2 separate regions of the Homo sapiens genome follow, and region 1 is linked to region 2. The links come from fine-mapping of genetic effects on plasma protein levels. Region 2 holds a variant in brackets. A gene starts in the other region. All regions are shown on their forward strands.

Region 1 (5,333 bases), not on the chromosome of region 2:
GACATGAGCTTCTCAGCAGCGGTGGAGGTGGTGTACCCTCTCACGTGTTTTTATTCATTCATTCATTCATTCATCAAACATTTGTTGACCACTGTGAAACTGATTGGAACAATTCCTACCGCACGTGATGGAAAACCTCTATGGGCCATTGGCTTAAATAAGAGAGATGCTTCTTCTCCTCTGTTGTGAAACAAGCCTGGAAGTGTGCAGCCCAGGGACCAGGCTCAGGGTCACTGGGACCCAGGCTCCCTCGGCCTTGATGTGTCACCTGAAGCCATCACCTCATGGTCCAAATTCGTTGCCCACCTCCAGCCTTCACGTCCACACTCCAGGCAGCAGGAAGAAGGAATGGAAAAGGACCAAAAAGGGGGCGTACCCATGTAACCCCCTCCACCTGGAGTGTGCTGGACCTCATTCTGTACCCAGTCAGTCCTGCTCACCTGTCAGGTTCAGCTCCCCTAATCCATGCATCTCCTTCCCACGACAATGGGGTGGTTATTTGTACAATAACCATTTGTTGCATACAGTTGGCCCTCCATGTCCACAGTGGGTTGGTTCCAGGAAACCCCTGGCCACGCAAATACCGAAATCCGTGGATGCTCAAGTCCCTTATATAAAATGGCATAGTATTTGCATATAACCTACGCACATCTTCCCATATGCTTTATTTTTAATTTAACTTTTTTATTTTTGAGATGAAGTCTCACTCTGTCACCCAGATGCTGGAGTGCAGTGGCGCCGTTTCGGCTCACTGCAACCTCTGCCTCCCGGGTTCAGTTGTACAAGTGATTCTCCTGCCTCAGCGTCCCGAGTAGCTGGGATTACAGATGTCCGCCACCACATCTGGCTGAGTTTTTGTATATGTAGTAGAGAGAGGGTTTTGGCATGTTGGCCAGGCTGGTCTCGAACTCCTGACCTCAAGTGATCTGCCCGCCTCGGCCTCCCAAAGTGTTGTGATTACAGGCATAAGCCACCGCGATGGCCCTCCCACATGCTTTAAATCATCTCTAGATTACTTATAATACTGAGTATAATGTAAATGCTACATGAATAGTTGTTATACCGTATTGTTTAGGAAATAATGACAAGGAAAAAAGTCTGTACGTATTCGTACAGAGAAACCCATCCTAGGCCTACCTACAAGGACCCAGTCCATAGTGGGTTGAACCCACAGCCAGGGAACTCACAGATACAGAGGGGCCAACTGTAATGGGTCTCCGTGAGGGTCTAACTCCGCAAGGGCAGGGACCCTGCTGCTGATTTCACCACTGCAGCTCCACTGCCAGGCAATGGACGGTTGAGCTCCCGTGCAGTGGGCATGGCCCAGGTGACCCTTGACCCTTGCTTGAGTTCTCAGCTTCAGGGTGGTTTTTCCTGGTGGTGGACAGCGCTTCTAAGGAAGATGGGCTGGCTCGAAGGCAGCGGGGGACATCAGGCTTTCTGCTTGATTTCGATTACTCTAATGGTGACCCACTTTGTCTGCTGCACACTGGGCTGTCTTCAAGATGACAGGTTGACAATGACTGCCATTGGGTCATTACTGAGCAAAGAGCCATTAGCACACTGGCTGTGGTTCCAGCACAGTCTGTGCCGGGAGGCAGGTGTCTGTCATCCCAGGTGTGCTGGCCTCATTTGTCTGAAGGAATCTGCCGACCTCAGGAAACCCCAGCACGCCTTCAGGCCACTGCCTTGCTTGTCTGTAGCCTTCCCATGGTCACCGCACTTCCGGGCCAGGGTCCCAGCCAGGGTTTATACCGAGACCCACTCACCCAGACTAAGCGGGAAGCAAGACGGTGGGTGTCATCCCACGTGGAAAAAGAACTTAGGGACCTGGAGGAATCAGGCATGGGCATGTTTATTTTGAATACATGTGTCTAATTATTCAATGGAGCTTTCTTAAATGAATTCAAAATACATGTGAAGATTTGTTTCCAGTTGCTTAATGTCTTTTTAATAAGGAGGCTCTGACCAGATAACCTACCCTGAAATTTCTTTTTCGTTTGTTTTTTGTTTTTTGTTTTTCGAGACGGAGTCTCGCTCTGTCACCCAGGCTGGAGTGCAGTGGCACGATCTAGGCTCACTGCAAGCTCCGCCTCCTGGGTTCACGCCATTCTCCTGCCTCAGCCTCCCAAATAGCTGGGACCACAGGCGCCTGCCACCACTCCCGGCTAATTTTTTGTATTTTTGGTAGAGACGGGGTTTCACCATGTTAGCCAGGATGGTCTCGATCTCCTGACCTTGTGATCCACCCGCCTTGGCCTCCCAAAGTGCTGGGATTACAGGCATGAGCCACCGCACCCGGCCTGAAATTTATTTTTCTTTTTTTCCTTTCTCTTTCCTCACTTTCCTTCCTTCTCTTTTCTTCTTCTCCTTCTCCTCCTCGTCCTCCTCCTTCTTCTTCTTCTTTCTTCTTCTTCCCTTCTCTCTCTCTCTCTCTCTCTCTCCCTCCCTCCCTCCTTCTTTCTTTCTTGACAGAGACTTGCTCTGTTGCCTATGCTGGAGTGCAGGCTTGATCGTGGCTCACTGTAGCCTCAACCTCCTGGGCTCAGGTGATCCTCCCACCTCAGCCTCCTGAGCTGAGTAGCTGGGACTACAGGCACGTGCCATCATGCTTGGCTGATTTTTAAAAAATATTTATTTATTTATTTTTAGTAGAGATGAGGCCTTGCTATGTTGCCCCAGCTGGTCTTGGACTCCAGGGCTCAAGTGATCTATCTACTCACCTCAGCCTCCCAAAATGCTGGGATTACAAGCGTGAGCCACTGCGCCCAGTCTGAAGTTTCTTTGAAAGCAAAAAAGGAAACAAAAAGAGTACATAGGCCCAAATGAAGACAGCTGAAAGTTTAATGTACCTCAAATTCCAGCCCATGACTAAGGGATGGACTTTGAGTCTCTTTTCGAATCCATCTCAAGGATTTAGGTTTAGAGTTTGTGCTCCTTTAAACAGACTAAGAGCCTCTGTGACAAAGTAAATAGAGAAAATAAGTGTAGTCAAGCTCTGGCAGGATTTGGAAGGGGGCCTAACGTGGAAGAAAGGAGAAGGCTGGAATTGACTAAGATGTGCTATGCACTGGGCTGGATTTGTTCTCAGCAGAAAGCAAGAAAGAGCTCTGGGATGGTAGCAGGGCTCCCACTACCACCGGGGGCCAAAGGTTGCAGTATTTCTCAGGTAGCCAAGAGGCACCCATGAGCCCAGCCCCTGCCCACTCCCTGATGTCATCTAGACACAAGGACATGGGGCATGAGAGGACATCATTGTCACTTCTCTGCAGAGTCACAGGAACGTGCCCTCTGCTCCTCCGCCTCTCGGCTGTCCTTCTGCCCACGGCTGGCCCAGACTCTCATGGCGACTCACTGTCTCCCACGCCCCCACTCCCGGCAGGAAACCACTTCAGGGTTTACTGTGGGCTCCGAAATCAGCCTGTGAGTCCTAGTTAGGGTCCCCTGTGCCTGACTCTCCTCTCCCCAGGCTGCAAGAAATAGGGATGACCAGAAGTCAAACTGTGCCCTTGGGAACACCCCACCCCTCACCACTGTCGTGCCAGGAGTCTGTTCCTAAGACCCCTCCCCAAGTCCTGTCTCCTCCTCTTCCTCCCATAAACCACAGCAGACACTCAGCCACCAGGCTGCAGCCCTGCACCTTCTCCAGCAGCCGCTGGCCTTCGCCAGAGTTCTTGAAAGCCCAGTTGTCCTTCCCCAGCCACGTGGAGGCAGACGGATCTCTCCTGGGGGCAGCCTGTAGCTGTCTGTGCAAAGGTTCCCAAGACTAAAGTGTAGAGGACAGGTAAGATGACACTGTCATGATCATCATTCGTCCTGTGCCCTGTGGACATCAACCCACAGATGTGACATCAACCCATCTGATATTGAGCCCAGTGGGTGGGGAGATCCTAACCCAGCTGCTGCTGTTGAGGACTTGGGTGGTGTCTGGCCAGTGGGAGGGGAGGTCAGGCGAGTTTTCAGCAGATGACCCCGTGCTCTTCGGAAGCCCGGAGGTGCCACACTGTACAAGTGTGATGCCTGGGATCCTGTGCTCCCCTGATGCCTGGGAATGGGGTGAAGGAACAGCCTAGGCTTGGGTTCTCTCCTGGGTTGTTTCGGGACTTGGCCCCAGCTCAGGAAGGGTTTGTGGAGGAGCCAAGGAGGGCCTTGTTCCTGTGGGATGTCTTTGCCTTGGGCACAAGGACAGCCTCTTGCTGCTGCTCTGCCCACCGCCCACCCCTTGGCGGCCTCTGGGAGTCTGGGCTGCTCTCCCTCTGGACCTAACCAGTTGCCCAATGGCTGGACCTGCTTAAAGCTCCCTCTTACAACTGGACCAGGCAGCCAGGGGAGGCACTGAGAGGCCGAGCTTCTGAGCTGGTGCCTGTGGATGCTCGACGGTCCCGCAGCTCCCACAATGGGATGGCCAAGCAGACCCTGAGATCCACAGCCCCCCTTTAGTGAAACAGGAGGGAGGTCGCTGGGCACAGGGAGCCGGGAACGCCTGCCCTCCCCGCCATCGACGGCTCCCGAGGCCTGAACCTTCGCTCCAGCCCCAGCACAAGCCGGCCAGGGCGCAGGGCCAAGTGTTGCCCGCCATTCCCCGGGTACCCCATGACCTCCCAGCTGGGGCTGGCTCGGACTGAGGAGTCGTCCCTGCCCGTCACCCTCTGGGGTCTCCAGTGCTGCGGAGCTCAGCTGGCTTTTGCAGCGGTAGGGGCTGGGAGGAGAAGCTGCAGGGAGACCGCAGGCGTGGGACGTTGTGGGGGGTCAGGCTTGCTCTGGGGCTGGGACCCCGGGGGGAGCAGTGGGGTTGACGCCACAGCGATGACTTGGGCCACGGGTCTGGGGGCTCTCCCGCGGGGCGATTGGGCTCTGTCTTTCGGGATTAGGGTCTCTCCCACAGGGTTTGGGGTTCTCTCTGCAGATTTGGGGGAGTCTCTCCCGCGGGATGAGGGGGGGCTCTCCGCCGCACCCGCCTATGATGGCCCAGAGGACCCGAGCTCGGGTCACTCCCGTCGCCCTCGGGGCTCGGCGAGGGTGCAGGAGGCGGGCGCTGAGCCGGTGACGCGACTCCGGGCGGCTCCCGGGTGCGCCGCATATATAGCAGCGGCGGCGGTGGCGGCGGCCACACCGGGCGGCGGACACGTGGAGGGACCCGGCCCGCGCCTTCTGCCCCTGCTGCCGGCCGCGCCATGCGGTGAGCGCCCCAGGCCGCCAGAGCCCACCCGACCCGGCCCGACGCCCGGACCTGCCGCCCAGACCCGCCACCGCACCCGGACCCCGACGCTCCGAACCCGGGCGCAGCCGCAGCTCAAGGTACTACTGGCGCCGGGCCGACCCTGCGCCCCCGG
Region 2 (5,378 bases):
TTAAACTTAAATCAAGTCCAAAAGAGCACAGCCAGGAGAATGTGAGTGAGCCTGCCAAAGACGCCAGGCGTCCGGCCTGCTCTGGCTTCTCTGATGCTGGCCTTGCTTCTCAGGAGCTGTGGGCAGTGGGGGAGGATGGAGTGGAGCACCCCACTGCACCCCAGGCCCTCCTATCTACCATGTGGCCTGGTAGCAGGCATCTCAGCCAGGTGAGACAGCAGAGTGAGGCAGCCCAGGGTCAGAGGGCTGGGATGGAGCTCTTGCTCTGCTGCTCTAAGTCCCTCTGCCCAACGCACACATATAGCTGGTGGCAGATAAGCAGCACAGCTCAGTGGGCAGGAGCGGAGGCACTGCAGCCAGTGGGCCTAAATCCCACTGTACCACTGGCTGTGTGACCACTAACCAATGACCCCTCCATGCCTCAGTTTCCTCCTTTGGAAAACAAGGATAATAATAGGTACCTCATTGTATGGTCGTAAGTGTTAAATGGGTTCATACATACAAAGAGCTTAGAACTCTGCCTGGCATACTGTGAGCACTGTGTGTTACCTATTGTTATTCTCTGGGCCTCAGTTTCCTCACCTGCAAGATGGAGCTGAGGGTAGGACTTGACAACCAAGGGTAGTCTTCATGCTGGGGTCCTCTGGCTGTGGGAGCAGCATGGGGCTCCGCAATGAACAAGGCCCTGCCCTCAGAAGGGCACCTACCCTCCAAGGAGGAACTGGCTGGACAGACAGCACTACAGGTCCCACAAGCCACCCCCCACCCTGTAGCTGTGCAAGTAAGGAAGGTGCGTGTGTGTTTGTGCATAAGTATGTGTATATGTATATGTTTGTGGGTGTGTGTGCATATATGCATGAGTATATGTATATGTATAGAGTTGACCCTTGGACAACACAAGTTGGAGCACTGACCCACGTGCACTCGAATATCCACATATAACTTGTGACACCCTGTATTAGTCTGTTCTCACGCTGCTAATTAAGACATATCCAAGACTGGGCAATTTATAAAGGAAAGAGGCTTAATTGACTCACCGTTCCACGTGGTTGGGGAGGCCTCACAATCATGGCAGAAGGCAAGGAGGAGCAAAGTCACATCTTACATGGTGGCAGGCAAGAGAGCTTCTGCAGGTGAACTCTCCTTTATAAAACCATTAGATCTTGTGAGACTTATTCATTACCATGAGAACAGTATGTAGGAAACCGCCCCATGATTCAATTATCTCCACCTGGCCCCGCCCTTAACACGTGGAGATTATTATAATTCAAAGTGAGATTTGAGTGAGGACACAGCCAAACGATATCATTCCCCCAAAACTTAAGTACTAATAGCCTACTGTTGACAGGAAGTCTTATCAATGACATAAACAGTTGGTTAACACATATTAGATACTGTATTTTTACAATAAAGTACTTTAGAGAAAAGACAGTGTTACTAAGAAAATTATAGGAGAGGAAATATTTACTATTCATTAAGTGGAAGTGGATCATCATGAAGGTCTTCATCCTCATTGTCTTCATGTTGTGTAGGCTGAGGAGGAGGAGGAGAAGGAAGAGGAGGGGTTGGTTTTGCAGTCTCAGGAGTGGCAGAGGCAGAAGAAAATTTGTGTAAAAGTCGACCCTCGCCAGTGCAAGTTCGTGTTATTCAAAGGTCAACTGTATATGTGTTTGTGAGTATGTGTGTGTTTGTGTGTATGTACATGTGCATATTTGGGTTGGTGTGTACATGTATGTACACGTGTGCATGTGCATGCGTTTGTGTGTACCTGTATATGTGTGTGTTCATGTGCATGTTTGCACATGCATGTTTGTGTATATGTATATGAATGTGTATGTGTGTGTTGGTGTTCATGCATGCATGTGTTTGTGTGTACATGAGTATGTGCATATACATGTGAGCATGGTATTTGCATGTCTGTATGTGTGTGCATGTATCTGTGTTTGTACGCATATGTGTATATGTTTGTGTATGCATGCGAGTTTACATGGATATGTGCCTGTATGGGTGTATGTATGTGTATGCATATGTATGTTTGTGTATGCATGTGTGTATACATGTTAGTTTACATGGATATGTGCATGTGTATGTGTGTATATATGTATAAATGTATATACATGTGTGCATATGTGTGCATGTGTGTGCATGTGTGTGGGAATGTGTGTGTGTGAGTGTCCATGTGGCGAGCACAGAGAGCCAGCCCATTTGGGTTCTTTGTTGGAGTGCAGATGGGAATGTGCCTCCACCTGATTTCACACCTTGGCATGAACCTGTCTGAGTGGGCAGTGGAAGTAACTCAGACCCAAGAAGGAGGGATGGGGAAATGGGGGTGGCAAGTAAGAGGTATGAAAGTGTTTTGGCCAAAGAAATTCAGCAGGATTTGGATTGAAGGGACTGAAGGATGAAAGGAAGGCCAGTTACTCTGCAGTGGATGCTGTACTCCAAGCTCTGGGGCTCTTATGTTACAGCCAAGGAAAGAAAAGTTTAGAGAAGTCGAGGAACCTGCCTCGAGTCATCAGTAGTAGAGCCAGGACTCGAGCAGGAGTATGTCTGACTCCGGGGCCTGGGCTTCTTCACCACCCTGGTTGCCTCTTAGGGAAAGGGAGACAGATGGGGATAGTGCAGTCACTGGGCCTCACTCCGCATAGCTCCATGTGCAGAGGATGCATTGACCCCTCATATTTGGGATGACAACAGGCTCCAGCGTGGGGAGTGGTCGATGCTGGGCACCAAAGAGCGAGACTCTGCAGTGCTGGATGACAGTGCCCCAGGCCTGCAGTTGGGGAGGAGTTGCTGAGCAGAAGACAGCCCTGAAGCCTTTGAAAGCCAGGGCAGGCAGGAGGGCTCCAGGAGGCCAGTGGGTGGATAGAAAAGGGACTCAGGGACTCGGCCTAGATACCAGGGTGTTAAGTTCTGTT[C/T]TAAGATATATATCTTTGGATGAGTCAAATCCCTTTTCTGAGCCTCAGTTTGTATATCTGCCAAATGGGGCCACTACCCCTCCCCAGGCCCAATCCTACCTCATAGGAAAAAGCAGATTAATGTTGGGGTTATAAGTGCAGCCTTTGATACCTTTAGATCCTTAGCTGCTGGTCAAGTCACTAAACTGTTCAGTCTGTTTTCTAGTATGTGTAATGGGGATACCAGTGGTCTCTACCTCATCGGGCTGCAAGGGTTACTCAAATAATGCCTACAAAACACTCAGAACCACACCTGGCATAAAGAAAGGGGCTAGTAAATATTAATTACCATTGATATTGCTATTTTTTTTTTTTTTTTTGTGAGACAGAGTCTCACCGTGTCACCCAGGCTGGATGCAATGGCACAGTCTCGGCTAACTGCAACCTCTGCCTCCTGGGTTCAAGCGATTCTCCTGCCTCAGCCTCCTGAGTAGCTGGGATTACAGGCGCCCACCACCATGCCTGGCTAATTTTGTATTTTTAGTAGAGACGGGGTTTCACCATGTTGGCCAGGCTGGCCTCGAACTCCTGATCTCGTGATTCACCCGTCTCAGCCTCCCAAAGTGCTGGGATTACAGGAGTGAGTCACCACACCTGGCTGATATTGCTATTATTTCCTAAGATTCTTACAAGAACAAAACAAACTTGCACAGAGGAGACTGCTGAGCTATAGAAAGGTCTGTTGGCTGGGAAGTAGACTGTATTGCTGTTTGCAATTATTCATGCCCTCGTTCCCATTGAAAGTGATACACATCCTCACCCCTTTGACTTTGGGCTTCATTGCATGGCATGCTTCAGCTCACAGAATGTGAAAGCACATGACATATGCTAGGTCTCAGCAGAAGCTGTACCACCACCATGCTTGCTTTATCCGCTGCCATTAGAATGGCCTGCCCACTCACTGTGATGTCAGTGACAAACAAATGCTCATAGTTGTGAGCCACTGAGACTTTGGGGTTGCTTGTTATCACAGCCAACCTGACATATACAGTATGAAGAAGGAGAAGGGTCTCCAAGGAGGTGTGCTGTGGCCTACTGGGGAGAAGAGGTGCTTAGTCCTGACAGCTGAAGTCAAGGAGAGGATTGGGGTAGACAAAACACACATGAACCCCATACACAGAAGCCCTCAACACTGTCTGCCCTTTATTTACACAAGTCACTGTCAGACTTAGCAGGACCCAGGAGCTAGCTAGCTTTCCCATAAGGTCTCCTGGTCCCCACTTCAAACCCAGGAGCCCCTCTCTTATTCCTGGCCTTGATTCCTGGGTTGTTCTCACTGAGGAAGGCCAAGAAGCCCTTTGCATTGGCTTCTGTTTTGTTTGCTCTCACTTGTGCCATCCTGTTGTGGACAAGAAGGAAGCACGCCAACATCAGCCCCCACCGCAGACCAAGGGAAACATTTCCCGGCCTCCGGTTGGCCATGGCTCCCTTCCCGTGGGTCCTCTTTCTAGAGCCAGGTCTGTAAACTTGGAGAGAAAATGGTTTGTTGTCCGACTTTGTCCAATCCAGAAGTGGGAACCCAAGAGGGAGAGGCCAAGGACTGTGCTGTGGTGCTGCCCTCTAGCCAGTGGGCCTCACAAGTGGTCACAGAGGGTCTGGCTGGCGGACCCCACCATCTTGCTCTGTGGAAGAGGGGCTGCTCATGGATTCTGACCTCACAGGGCCACGAAAGTTTCCATGTGGAGTGCTTTCTGTCCAGGAGGCAAAGCAAACATCTGGTTGCACAGTTCCCCTTTCCCTGCCAGCCACCATGTGGGGATTCCAGGCATTGTTCCATCGTTTCTCCGTTTGCTTTCCATACCACCTCGCTGAGCTCCGGTGGCTTTGCTCATCCCTCCCAACCAGGCAGCCATTCACAGCCTCTCACTCCTCGTGTCTGCTGCTGGCCCTGACAAGAATTTTCCTGTGGCTTTCTGTGGTCTCCAGTCCTGTCATTTACCACCCAGTGCTTGCAGGCTTTCACTGCGCTGAAGAATTTCTGGGCAAATTTTGGTCCGTGTGGTCGCTCTGGGCAATTGTCACAGAAAGCCTTGGAGAAGCCGCCTGTGCAGCCCAGCAGCACCCGGCCCCCACCCAGCTCGTGGCAGTGTGTGCTCTGTTCTGTTTGGTGCTTTCAGGGTGCAAGGACAAGAGGTGCACTCAGGCACTTTTGGGGGCTGCCAGCAGGATGTGGGGAGCAGGAGCAAAGCTTAGCCACCTCAGCCGCCTTGGTCCTCCCCATTCAACCCACAGCGGTACTCCTCAAGAGCACGTAGCTGGGGCGATCATTTCTTTCTGGCTCTGAGTTCTGTGTCAGGCCACTCGCAGGTCTCTGGCATCATCATCATGAGCCTATAGATGGCTCTCTTTGAGTCAGGTGCTGAGCCACAGATCAAGTGGTTATTTATAGCTATAATTGCAGGGTCACATGACCCCAGGCAT

Direction of the effects. Alleles are on the strand shown, and positions count from the first base shown. The strength of an association depends on the size of the effect and on how common the allele is.
For the plasma level of the protein whose gene starts at base 5,110 in region 1, allele T in region 2 goes with a lower level than allele C (weak association).

What was found. PIP is the posterior inclusion probability: the model's chance that the variant is causal. Protein levels are from antibody-based Olink assays in UK Biobank. Linkage for the fine-mapping came from a reference panel and not from the study's own genotypes, which makes the PIPs less certain.
Region 1: GAL starts here. The variant in region 2 is fine-mapped to the plasma level of the GAL protein (UK Biobank, PIP 0.91).

Annotation. Positions count from the first base shown.
Region 1 is chr11:68,679,435-68,684,767 of GRCh38, forward strand. GAL (galanin and GMAP prepropeptide) reads left to right here and starts at 5,110. Exons shown (of 6, transcript NM_015973.5): 1 at 5,110-5,298. All of the region lies in intron 2 of LOC107984343 (a long non-coding RNA gene), which reads right to left. RefSeq lists enhancers at 3,829-4,504, 5,181-5,333.
Region 2 is chr1:117,582,605-117,587,982 of GRCh38, forward strand. No RefSeq gene overlaps it. Among named protein-coding and RNA genes, the nearest start is that of TENT5C-DT, 20 kb to the right of the region's middle. The variant C/T (reference allele first, on the strand shown) is at 2,919.